Linked DNA regions of Homo sapiens: region 2 is linked to region 1. The links come from fine-mapping of genetic effects on gene expression. Tissue or cell type: whole blood. Region 1 holds a variant in brackets; the other region holds the start of a gene. All regions are shown on one strand. Distances are between the middles of the regions. Region 1 overlaps TSPAN3 (tetraspanin 3). Region 2 holds the start of PSTPIP1 (proline-serine-threonine phosphatase interacting protein 1).

What was found.
Region 2: it holds the start of PSTPIP1, and the variant in region 1 is fine-mapped to the expression of PSTPIP1 in whole blood (TOPMed, PIP 0.97).

Annotation. Positions count from the first base shown.
Region 1 is chr15:77,057,898-77,063,220 of GRCh38, reverse strand. The region is part of intron 1 of TSPAN3 (tetraspanin 3); the gene reads left to right. Among named protein-coding and RNA genes, the nearest start is that of TSPAN3, 11 kb to the left of the region's middle. The variant G/A (reference allele first, on the strand shown) is at 2,979.
Region 2 is chr15:76,991,931-76,997,303 of GRCh38, reverse strand. It overlaps PSTPIP1 (proline-serine-threonine phosphatase interacting protein 1), which reads right to left and starts at 2,178. Exons shown (of 15, transcript NM_003978.5): 1 at 1,695-2,178. The coding sequence starts at 1,730. RefSeq lists a silencer at 1,994-2,183 and an enhancer at 2,424-2,473.

The sequences.
Region 1 (5,323 bases):
CATGTACAGGATGAGTCAAAGCCACACAGACCTGAGAAAAGTGGTAAGTGGGAGAGATTGGCAGAGGTGCCTAAAATATTTAGGATGGAAGAGGTGTCTGTTTTTGGTTGGTTAAGGACACATCCAGGAATGAATTCATTGGTGAGAGAACATTAAAGCCTCAATTTCAGACATAATTTTAACTATTATTCTAATTATGCAAGTAATATATTTTAAAGAAGACACTAAAAGTATTTTAAAAAGCAAACTGGTATCACCCATAATTCTACCACCCAGAGACAACCAATATCAACATTTTGGTTTGTTTCCAATATGTGATATATGTGTTTTTTCCCCTATCACACCACAAGCATATTATTAAATGATGCTTTAAGAAAATATTTCAGGGCTGAATGCAGACACACCTCTGAATACCAGGGCTTTTTCATTTTCATTTTTGCAGCCACAATTTCATTACAACATCTCGATGAATTACCTTTTACACAAATCTGTGTTTCTGACTAACTTTCTAAAGGATAGATTCCTGGAAGTGGAATAAGTAGGTATAAAGGCATCAATGCTGAGGCAGATATGTATTGCCAGATTGTTTCCAAAAAAATGATTCTCTATTAGTTTGTGCTTCCGCCCATCTGAGGGCCCTTCTCTCTGCACCCTCACACATCTTTGAATACTCCTTAACTTTATTGCTGATCAGTTTGTTAGGTAGAAAATGATAGTATTTAATAGCTTCAGAAATTCTTGGTAAGAGTAGCTTTAATTTCTGAAAGAGGATTTGGAGTCTTTGGAATGGCCTTTTTTCCTTGAGAGTTGGTAGGAGAGTAAATGATATATTCAGGTAGTGGACTTACATAAGAAGTAGTTGTGTTTAGTGACGTAAACTGTTCTATCAGATTAAGTCAGAGGTGAAAGCATGGTTGAATTAGAGAATATACATTATGGCAAGTAGAATGCTAAACGATTTAAGATGATTTTAAGACACTTGTAATGGCATAAGGGTGAAGTTTGGGGAAGCTTTCAGAAATCCACTGTGTGGAATTACCAACGATTCTTCCCAGGAGAGAAAAGAGGTATATGAAAAATAATATGACAGTACAGGAAACTCTGGATTTAATGTTAAAAAGATATATGCATAAGATGGATTCCTGCCTATTTTTTCCCTCTGCTTTTAAAACCTGCTTTCTTACAAAGTCTAGAGTACAGCATTTTTTGCTCAGTCTTTTACTTCTTGACTTTTTTCCTTTCTCTCAACACTCCAGTCACTTCTACTTTACTAATTGATTCTTTGGCAAAAATCACTCCGAAGGGAGCAGTTCACACAGGCAAGCAAGAATTTGTCAGGCACTGTGCTTTTAGGTGAATAAAGTCCAGATGGTGCCTTGTCTTTACATTGTTTTGATTCTTGCCAGTTCTAGATGGGAATCATCATCAATGGCTACTACATACCACTGCAAGAAAATCACTTCTATTCTTTGCTTCAGCTTCGCCCAAAATGTCCTGTGGGATGCTTTCGCCTTTGTATTTCTAAATCTCCATGTAGGTATACTTTTGGCAACAGAGCTACTTTATCTCCCCACTTGTAGCAAATCTGTTTCATTTTTAATATTGCCACATTCCAATGGCAGGTTACACCGTGGTTGATGAAAAGGAATTTAATAGTTTTACAGATTTTAACTTTTTTTTTTTTAATTTTTTGAGACTGAGTTTTGCTCTTGTTGCCCAGGCTGGAGTGCAGTGGCGCAATCTCGGCTCACTGCAACCTCTGCCTTCCAGGTTCAAGCGATTCTCCTGCCTCAGCGTTTCTGAGTAGCTGGGATTACAGGCATGTGCCACCACGCCCGGCTAATTTTGTATTTTTAGTAGAGACGGGGTTTCTGCATGTTGGTCAGGCCGGTCTCGAATTCATGACCTCAGATGATCTGCCGGCCTTGGCCTCCCAAAGTGCTGGGATTACTGGTGTGAGCTACTGCGCCTGGCCCAGATTTTAACATTTTATCTACTTGTCTCTTTCATAGAATATTTGAAAATTACCCCCCCAAAAACTAGTTTCTAAGCTATGGAAAAAGCAATCTCATATAAGAATGAAATCTCTTTAAGATATTTCACATTTGTGCATATGTAGAGGAAGGGTAAAAGCATAAAATGAAGTATCATACTTTTGGAACTCATATACTTGCAAAATTTTATAACAAGATGGCTTTATTTTTTAGACAGCTTAGTGGAAAAGCACTGGCTCTCCTAAAGTTTTAAAATGTTGTGACTTAATTTAGAGTATAGGCTTATTAAAAGATAAAGAATAATGGTTTTTTAAAAATTATTCTTTCTGTAATTTCAGACCTCAGCCTTTTGCCTAAATTTCCTTTCACTTCTTTGTAAAAAGGATGAATATTTTTAGTACACTGTCCTGGCACAAATCCTCCTTACAGGCTCAGATTTTCTCAGTGGTGACTAAAGCAGTTCAGCTGCTTCCAAGTTCTACATTTCATCTCCTTTTCTGTTGCACCTCCCTCCTCCCCAGCCCCCTCCTTTGCAGCTGCTTTATTGGCAAAGCTCAGATCCTTTGATAGATCTCAATCCCATCATGGCCCTTCAAAAGAAGAATTTAAGCTCACCTTTTATATAGCTTTTCTGATAGCCACAATTTCTGCATTAAAAATCTGAGGGATGACAAAGTCCCTATGCATACTAGTTAGGAATTTCTTAGAACCTCTCTTCCATTTACTATACTGTTTCCCATGTTCTTTTGGGTGTTTTTCATATTGATGGTTGGATATCATTACAACAATTACTTTTGGCTGTTTTTAGGTCTTCAGCTGCTACTGGGATACCTCTTCTATATTTTCAAAGTAACCAGTGTCATTTCATAATTGTTTATTATACAGCTTAAGATATAAGCACCATATACAGATTTCAGTAAAAGCAAAATTTGAAGCTGTTTTCAATTTAGGAAACACATCGTCTATTTATAAGCAATTTGATGT[G/A]TATAGTTTCATATCAGCAATCCGTGCAGTTTTCTCTTTGGTGTGTGCAACTAGTAAGTTCCTTTAACTATATGTTGCCAAATAGAGCTTTGTTATGTTCTCATCTTGTTGTGTGACTTGGATGTTGACTGCAGCCTGGGAAAAAAAACTGTTGTAGAGTCTATCAGAAAAGAAGAGGCAGCTTTACAAATGGCATCTCCCCACAGCCCTCCATTGCATTTGTTGTGCATCTGGTTGTCTCTGTTGCTGGTTTTTCTGCTTTCTTGTAGTCTCAGTTTCAGATGAGTGCCTCTTTTAGGGGGGAGAGGCAGTGGCAGCAGAGGAAACATTTCCCTTGGCCCACCTCCAAGCAGCACTAAGTGTGAGTCTCATAGGAACCTCTTTAGATTGAAAACTCATCAATTTATATCTAAAATGCAAGTAGTTCTTCAGTGAACTGTGCTTCAGGTTGATTGTTAAGTACATATGGCCTCCAGTTTTCTCTTATTTTCATTCGAATTTACATAGGCTAAAGCTAGTGAAGTTTCAGTAGGTGTACCGAAAGCTCAGAAATGGAATTCATTTTAACTCAAGCCTTTTAAGAAATAAATACTGCCTTTTAGAGTAAAAAAAACCTACAACATTAAAGGATAGAGAAACGTCTAATAAAAACAAATGACAAAATTTGATTAATTTGCACTTCAGATTGCTTCTAATTTAGCGTGAGGACTGATACTATTTACTTTAGCAAAATGTGTGTGTGTACATGTGTGTGAATATATATCACACAAGTAGTCAATAAAAAGGGGTATTTGGGAAGAGTGTTAAGTAGTTGACATACTTCTGTAATAAATGCACCCAAATTAAAATTAAGCTATGTCTGGCCAGGCGCAATGGCTCACGCCTGTAATCCCAGCACTTTGGGAGGCCGAGGCGGGCGGATCACGAGGTCAGGACATCGAGACCATCCTGGCTAACACGGTGAAACCCCGTCTCCACTAAAAATACAAAAAATTAGCCAGGTGTAGTGGCGGGCGCCTGTAATCCCAGCTACTCGGGAGGCTGAGGCAGGAGAATGGCGTGAACCTGGGAGACGGAGCCTGCAGTGAGCTGAGATTGCGCCACTGCACTCCAGCCTGGGCGACTGAGTGAGACTCCGTCTCAAAAAATAAATAAAATAAAATAAAATTAAGATAAATTAAACTATTTCTCTTCTCCACTCCCCCCCACTTTTGTGCTCACCTTCATTCTCTAGTACCATGCCCCAAAAGCAAATATGTCAGTGAACTCTGAGAACCTTTGAACAGGCAGTTTGCTGTAAGTACAGTGTTTATATTTATGACATATTTACGATATATTAACATATTCCAGATGTAATGGCCATCAGAATTCAGCAAGCTGGATTCAGTTGCCAAATAATTGAATAGTGAACTAAAAGCTATAAGCATTGAACTGAAGAGAAACCAGATACAAACCAAATACAAATACAAACCAACGCAAATACAAACCAAAGCTTATGATAGAGTTGGGAGGGTGATTTCAAGGGAAAGGGGTGAGATGAGGTGTACTCAATAAACTTTAACTGATACCTGCTGTCTGCCAAGTACTGTTCTAGATGATACAAGGGTGAAGGACAGATGGGTACAATTCGTGCTCTCAAGGTGTGTTGAGACAGGTATAGCTATAATTGCAACCGTTTCGATAAATATTCTGTTAGAACCATGCACTGGGAGATGTTTGTGTCCACCAAGGGCAGCTAATCCAGCCTGAAATGGTCAAGAATGGCTTCCAAAAGGAAGAGGTAACATTTAAGCTTCATCTTAATGAGCGACAAGGAGTTCCCAGGCATTTGAAGAGAGCATTCTAGAGAGAACAGCGGAGGCAAAGAAGTGAGAGAATATGTGGTCCATTTGGGTATAACAGTTCTATATTGTTCATAGTTCACAAGGGGTAATGAGATCTGGGGCTGAAAAGGAGGAATAGCTTGGTTCATCGGGGACTCACTTGCCTCATCCTGATTTTAAGTAAGGCTATGGCTTGATCTGGTTTGTATTTTTAATAAATATAACCCTGGTAGTATAAAGAATGTATTAAGATGCAGGGAGAGTCAATAAGTAAGATTTAGGGGGATAAGATAAGGCCCAAATTAAGACAGAAGCACTGCAGTGGGGTTGAAGAGGAGTTGAGGTATTCGAATAATGTTTTGGAAGTAAAGTTGAAGTTTTGTGATTTATGGGTTATAGAGGTGGGGCAAGGAAAGTTAATCCTCAGATGTTTGACCAGAAAAATTAGATGTCTGGTACCTTTTGCTATGATAGGAATGTAAGGGAAGATTAGATGGGCTGGGCAGGAAGGCAGAAAGGGTT
Region 2 (5,373 bases), 66 kb after region 1:
TCCTGCTCTGGCCTTCCCTAGGGAAACTATATGCCCGCCCCAGGCTCAGGGAGCCAGACACAGAGGAGACAAGGCACTTGGAGGCCAGGAAGCCCAGAGGTGCGACGAGCACAGAGTGTGGGCAGGATGCCGCTCAGGAAGCTCCACAGGGGCTGGCTGCTTGCTTCTGCTGCGGCTGCCATACCCTGCTCCCTTATACGCCACCCCTACCTGTGCCCAGATCCTGCCATGGAGGCTGCTCCTTGCCCAGCTCTGCCCTAGGGAAGGCAGGCCCAGGGGCTCTAGGACTGGACAGAGGTCTCAGTGATAAAATAGTCAAGGGGTCCTGGCCTGCCCTGGGCTACAGAGTGGCCTGGGTTTCCAGGCCCTACCCCTTCCCCCAACTTTGCACACCAAGGCAGGGCAGCTAGGTGGTGACTCACATCCCCCATCCCCCAGGGCTCCAGCTGCCAGCCTGGGCCCTGAGCATCCTGGTGCCTGGTCCTCCGGATGGGCTGAGGCAGCTCTGCCTCCATTGGCTTCTCTGGGCTGGGCCCACCCTGTCTTTGTAGAGATGGGGAAACTGAGGCCCAGAAAGGCACAAGGTGCCCTCCCCACGTGGGGTCCTTTGCCTACTGTACAGTCAGAGCAGAGGAAGCAGAACACTCACACGCTGGCCACAGGCCCCAAGTGGAGCCGGCCGGAAGGGAAGGAAGGCCTGGCTCCATAGCTCTCATCCTCCTGGCTGCAGCCCCAGGAAAAGGCCCGGGGAGGGCAGGGCTGTTGGCTGGGGCTCAGCCGGCTGAGCCGAGGGCCAGAGCGTCCTCTTCGGGGTTGGAGGCAGCACCCCGGGACAGCCACATTCCCCAGCTCCAACCAGAGAGGTCTCAGTTTTTCCCCAGAGCCCTGGGCACAGCCAGAGCTGAGGGGCAGAGGGGTAGTTGAAGGACAGCTGGAAAAGTGCTGAGATGACCAGGGGTCCAAGCTGGGCTGCAGGCTACGTGGCCCGGGCCAAGCCACTTTACCTCTACCACTGGCTGGGCGCCCTTATTTCATGGGGGAAATGACTTGATTTAAGCCCGTGTTGAATTTAAGAAAGTAAGCAAGCCATTGCCCACCTGGCTGCCTCCTTGAAGGACCCCTAAGGTCTGCAAGGGACAAGGGGCTGGGTGAGGGGAACAGAATTACCATTTGGAGTGAGGCAAGGTGCTGGGGGCTTTAGTGCCTTGGATCCCCTTGCTGATCCAATGCTTTAGTTGGTGTGTTGATTTCTATTTTATCACCATTATATAGATGGAGAGACTGAGGCTTGGAGACAGAAATGACTTGCCCAGCCTGTAACAGAGCCAAGACCTGAACTCAAGTTTGTCTGGTCTCTAAATCTGTGACCCCTCCTTTGCTGCCCCACACATCCTCCTCAAGCCCCCACCCATGTGTTACCCTCTTCTGAGGAGCTCCTGCTGTGGGGAGAGGTCTCCCAGAGGAGAAAACACACGGGGCAGCAGAGAGGAGGACGCTCATTCACGGAGTCCACTTGCGTTCCAGTCCAGAAGGGGTGGGGGCCTGGGCCACCTCCATGACAATTAAGACCAAGAATCAACCACTATTTTATGAGAAAGCTCCCCTCTCGGAGCCGCATCCCATCACCTGCATGGAGATTTCAGCCTAGCTCTGCCCCCTCCACTTGTTCAGTGCCCCCAACCATCCTCACTCACCCAAAAGGCATCTTTGAACTGCAGCTGGGGCATCATCCTCAGGCGTCTGCCGCGGCAAAGCTCACTCTCCTGCCACAGGCTGGCCTGATGGAGGGCCAGGCGCCAGCAGCAGCGTCCCAGTCCTGGCAGGGCTGGCCCAGGCCCCCCTTCCCGGCCGGCGCCGTCTGCAACACTCAGAAGGCAGCCACGAGCCAGAGAGGAGCTTCTGAGGGGAGGAAAAAGCTCAACCTGTTTTGTTTGGGGCTAGAATCAGCAGCAAAATGAGGAAGGAGTGGAGCTCAGTGATGGGAGGGCGGGCCCTGGTGTCCAGCCCAGCCCCTCACCGACCCTGCGGTGATGGAGGACACAGTCTGGGACCCAGGGCAGGGAGCAGGGATGCCAGCCCTGGGTGGGAGGCAGTGGCCAGTGGAAGAGGCAGGCTGGAGCTCGGGCCGGGCCAGGCAGGCAGGCAGGCAGGCAGCCCGAGGCCTGCGCAGGAAGGTTTGTGCAACCTCCCCCGGGGCAGGCACAGGGCCCTCGCCCACAGGAAGTGGAGTTGCTGTGCTCCCCTGTGCAGCCCCGCCTGCCACCTGCCATCCTGCTCCTGCCTCTGCTTGCCCCCTCCCGAGGTGCGGGCTCACTTTATTCCAGAGGCCATATGCTAAGGGAGCTTGAGGCCCACTGACAGTGTGGCCAGGAGGGGCCCAGGAACCCCAGGTGTGTCACCCGCCAGCCAGTCCAGCACCCTTCCAGGCTGGGCCCAGAGATGCCAGACTCCCCACCCCGCACTAGCAAGTCATTCTGGAGGGGCTTACCCAGGTCTAGGGCATCTGTCATTCATCAAACCCTGGCTGCTCTGGGACCCAAACCAGGTCCTGCCCTCAAGGAGCCCATAGTCTGGGAGCAGACACAGCTGTGCTCTGGGGGGCTGTGAGCACACAGAGGCAAGGTGAGCAGGCAGCAAGATGAGGGAGAACAGCCTGAGGCCCCGGCACTGCCCCCACCACCACCACCGCCACCACCGCAAGTCTCCAGATTAGACGCTGTTTGGGGCAGAGAACCCCCTTCTGAAGATGGAGGCTTCCGGCTCAGTGAATGGGAATGGATGGAGAGAGAAACAGGATTATCAAGGCACAGAGTGGGGTGTTTGGAAACCCAGTCTGAGGCCCAGTTTTTGTTTAATTTTGACCCCACCTTTCAGGGGCTGAGGGACCTTAATAGACCCCCCAACTCGCTGAGCCTCAGCTTCCTCATCTGCCACACCCAGTCTTTGGAAAGTAGACGGTGTCGAGAATATTTCTGGAATTTCCAGTTTGGTGGGCAGGTGCTGGGGGCACTGTGTGGTACCACCTTAGGAAGAGCCCTGGACTAGAGCCCCAGCCCCAGCCCTGAGACGCCACGCCCTGCCGGCTCAGCAGAAGATGCAGCAGGAAGTCCTGAGCCCAGGGCAGGCTGGCAAAATGGGGTGAGTCAGGGATTGTCCGCAAATCACCACCCTCACTGATGTCTGCCTTACAGCTGACGGGGTGATAAGATGAGAGCTGCTGCAGATGAAATAGTTGAGCTCCCAAGTGCCCATTATGCATGCCCAGGGTTTAGAGAGAGGGGGCACACCCAGGCTCTGAAATAGCCACCCAAGAGGAAACACTTTGGGGAGGATTGCAGAGCAATGGGACTGCCCCCAGAAGGCCCTCACCTCCAGAAACCTTGGATTTGAGCTAATCTTTAATCTGTAAGGCGCCCCAGTCAGGTTTTTTGTTACTTGCAGCTGAAGACAATTAATAGTGTAAAAATCCCCTTGAACTTTGTAGGCCATAGAGTGAGCCAGGCTGCACCTCACCTCCCAATGGCACCACCACCTCTGATAGCACTGGCTCAGCCTCCCTGAGCTCAGTTTCTCCATCCATCAGATGGGATGATGCCTCTAGGTCTGGAGCAGACTAGAGACCCTCTGTTAACAGAAGGCTCCTGCCTGCTTATTGGCAGAAATTTTTACAGCTGGGCTCCCTGCCCTGCCTCTCTAGGTGTCCTTCCCATCACCTCCCAGAGACTTCTGCTCCAGCCAGGCCTCTTCCCTCTCCCTGGAGGCACCTTTCCCACTCCCACCTGCTCTGTTCCCAGCCTCCCTTCTGGCAAGCCTTCCTTGATCTTCCTTACCTGGGCAAATCCTCCCACCCTCAAAGCCAACCTCAAGGCTCCCACACATGAGGCCTTCCTTTCCCAACTGTACCTGTCCAGCCAGGGCAGCCCCGGATGGAGGGCCATGCTGGTGACGGGCTGGAGCAACTGGGGAAGGAAGTAATGTGAGGAACCTCTGGAGAGACTCTGCAATTCTCTACTAGAGAGGCCTTCCTCCTCCCCTCCCTTCCACCCTTACCTGTTGCAGGTCCCCAGGCTGGGCGACCAGACAGCCAATTCGGCTTTGGAGTACTTACCCAGCACCGGGTACATCATTCTGCTTTTCACACGGACCACCTCAGTTACACTGTCATTATCCCCACTTTACAGAGGGGCAAACTAGTGATTAAAGAGTGTAAGTAACGCACCCAAGTAGCAGGCAATAAGCAGAAGGCTGGGCTTTGGTCCTAGATCTGTCCGAAGCCAAAGCACACGCTCTTAACTTCCACAGTTGTCTTTTACTAACAGCCCTCTATTCAAAAAGCGTTTCATTGTTCCTTTCTCCAGTTCTACCTCGAGACCCTCTCACCCAAGTCAATAAAAGGAAAAACAATCTAGGGAAGCCACCGGGGCTGATGGTGCCATAGGAATGAGAGGCCAGCCTTTAGCACATGCTATTCTGCATCACTGTGTTATTCGCATCAGTTGAGGATGCTTTTGGCTGCAAAGAACATAAACCAGAGGGTCTGACACAGAGGACGTGTGCTGTCATCTACACAACGGGGCTGGAGGCAGGGCAGCCTCCAGCTGTGGTACATGAGGGCTTCAGCTCAGTCTCTCTGAGTTTCTCTTGCATTTACGATCTTCCTCCTTGGGCTGGAGGCCAAGGAGCTGCAGCAGCTCATCTACAACTCCAGACACAGCCACAAGCAGAGAAAGAAAAGGACACCTGCCCTTGTGTCTCATTTTCTCCAAAGCCCCTGCACCCTCCCTTCTGCCCAGCTCCCCAGGAGACCTTCCCTTGTGTCTCCTTGGCCCTAGGTGGGTCACGTGCTCATACTTCCCCATGGTTGGCCTTGCGAATGGGCAGCCGGGGATGCCGAAAGCCAACCACGTGACCACCACAACCTTCTCCTCAGCCCAGGCACACAAGCACTGCTGAGCACCAACTCCTGCAGGGTCCTGCTGGGACCGGGGCCTCAAGGGGAGGCAGACTTGGTTTTTGCTCTGAGGGGCCTAGAGACTGACAGACAGGTTCTAGGGAGTTCTTTCTCCATAAGGAGTGGCTCAGAGCGGGTGAGACCAGAAGAAGATATTGTGATGACTTTTACAGGAATGAGGTCTGGTTGGGGCAGGTGCGATGGGGCTTGAGTGGATTGGTGGGATGTCAGGGAGATGGAGGAGCAAGACTGAGATGTCTGAGTGCCCCTCAGAAAAGAGTACTGTCTTAGGGGGCCCCTATTCACACCAGCCCCACCCACACCCAGGCCCAGGCCCTTGGGGAGAGGAATCCATCCCTGAAAATCACCGCTTTTTAGTGACTGTTCCAGCTGCTTCAAAACAATTTGCCTTGAGGTCTGTG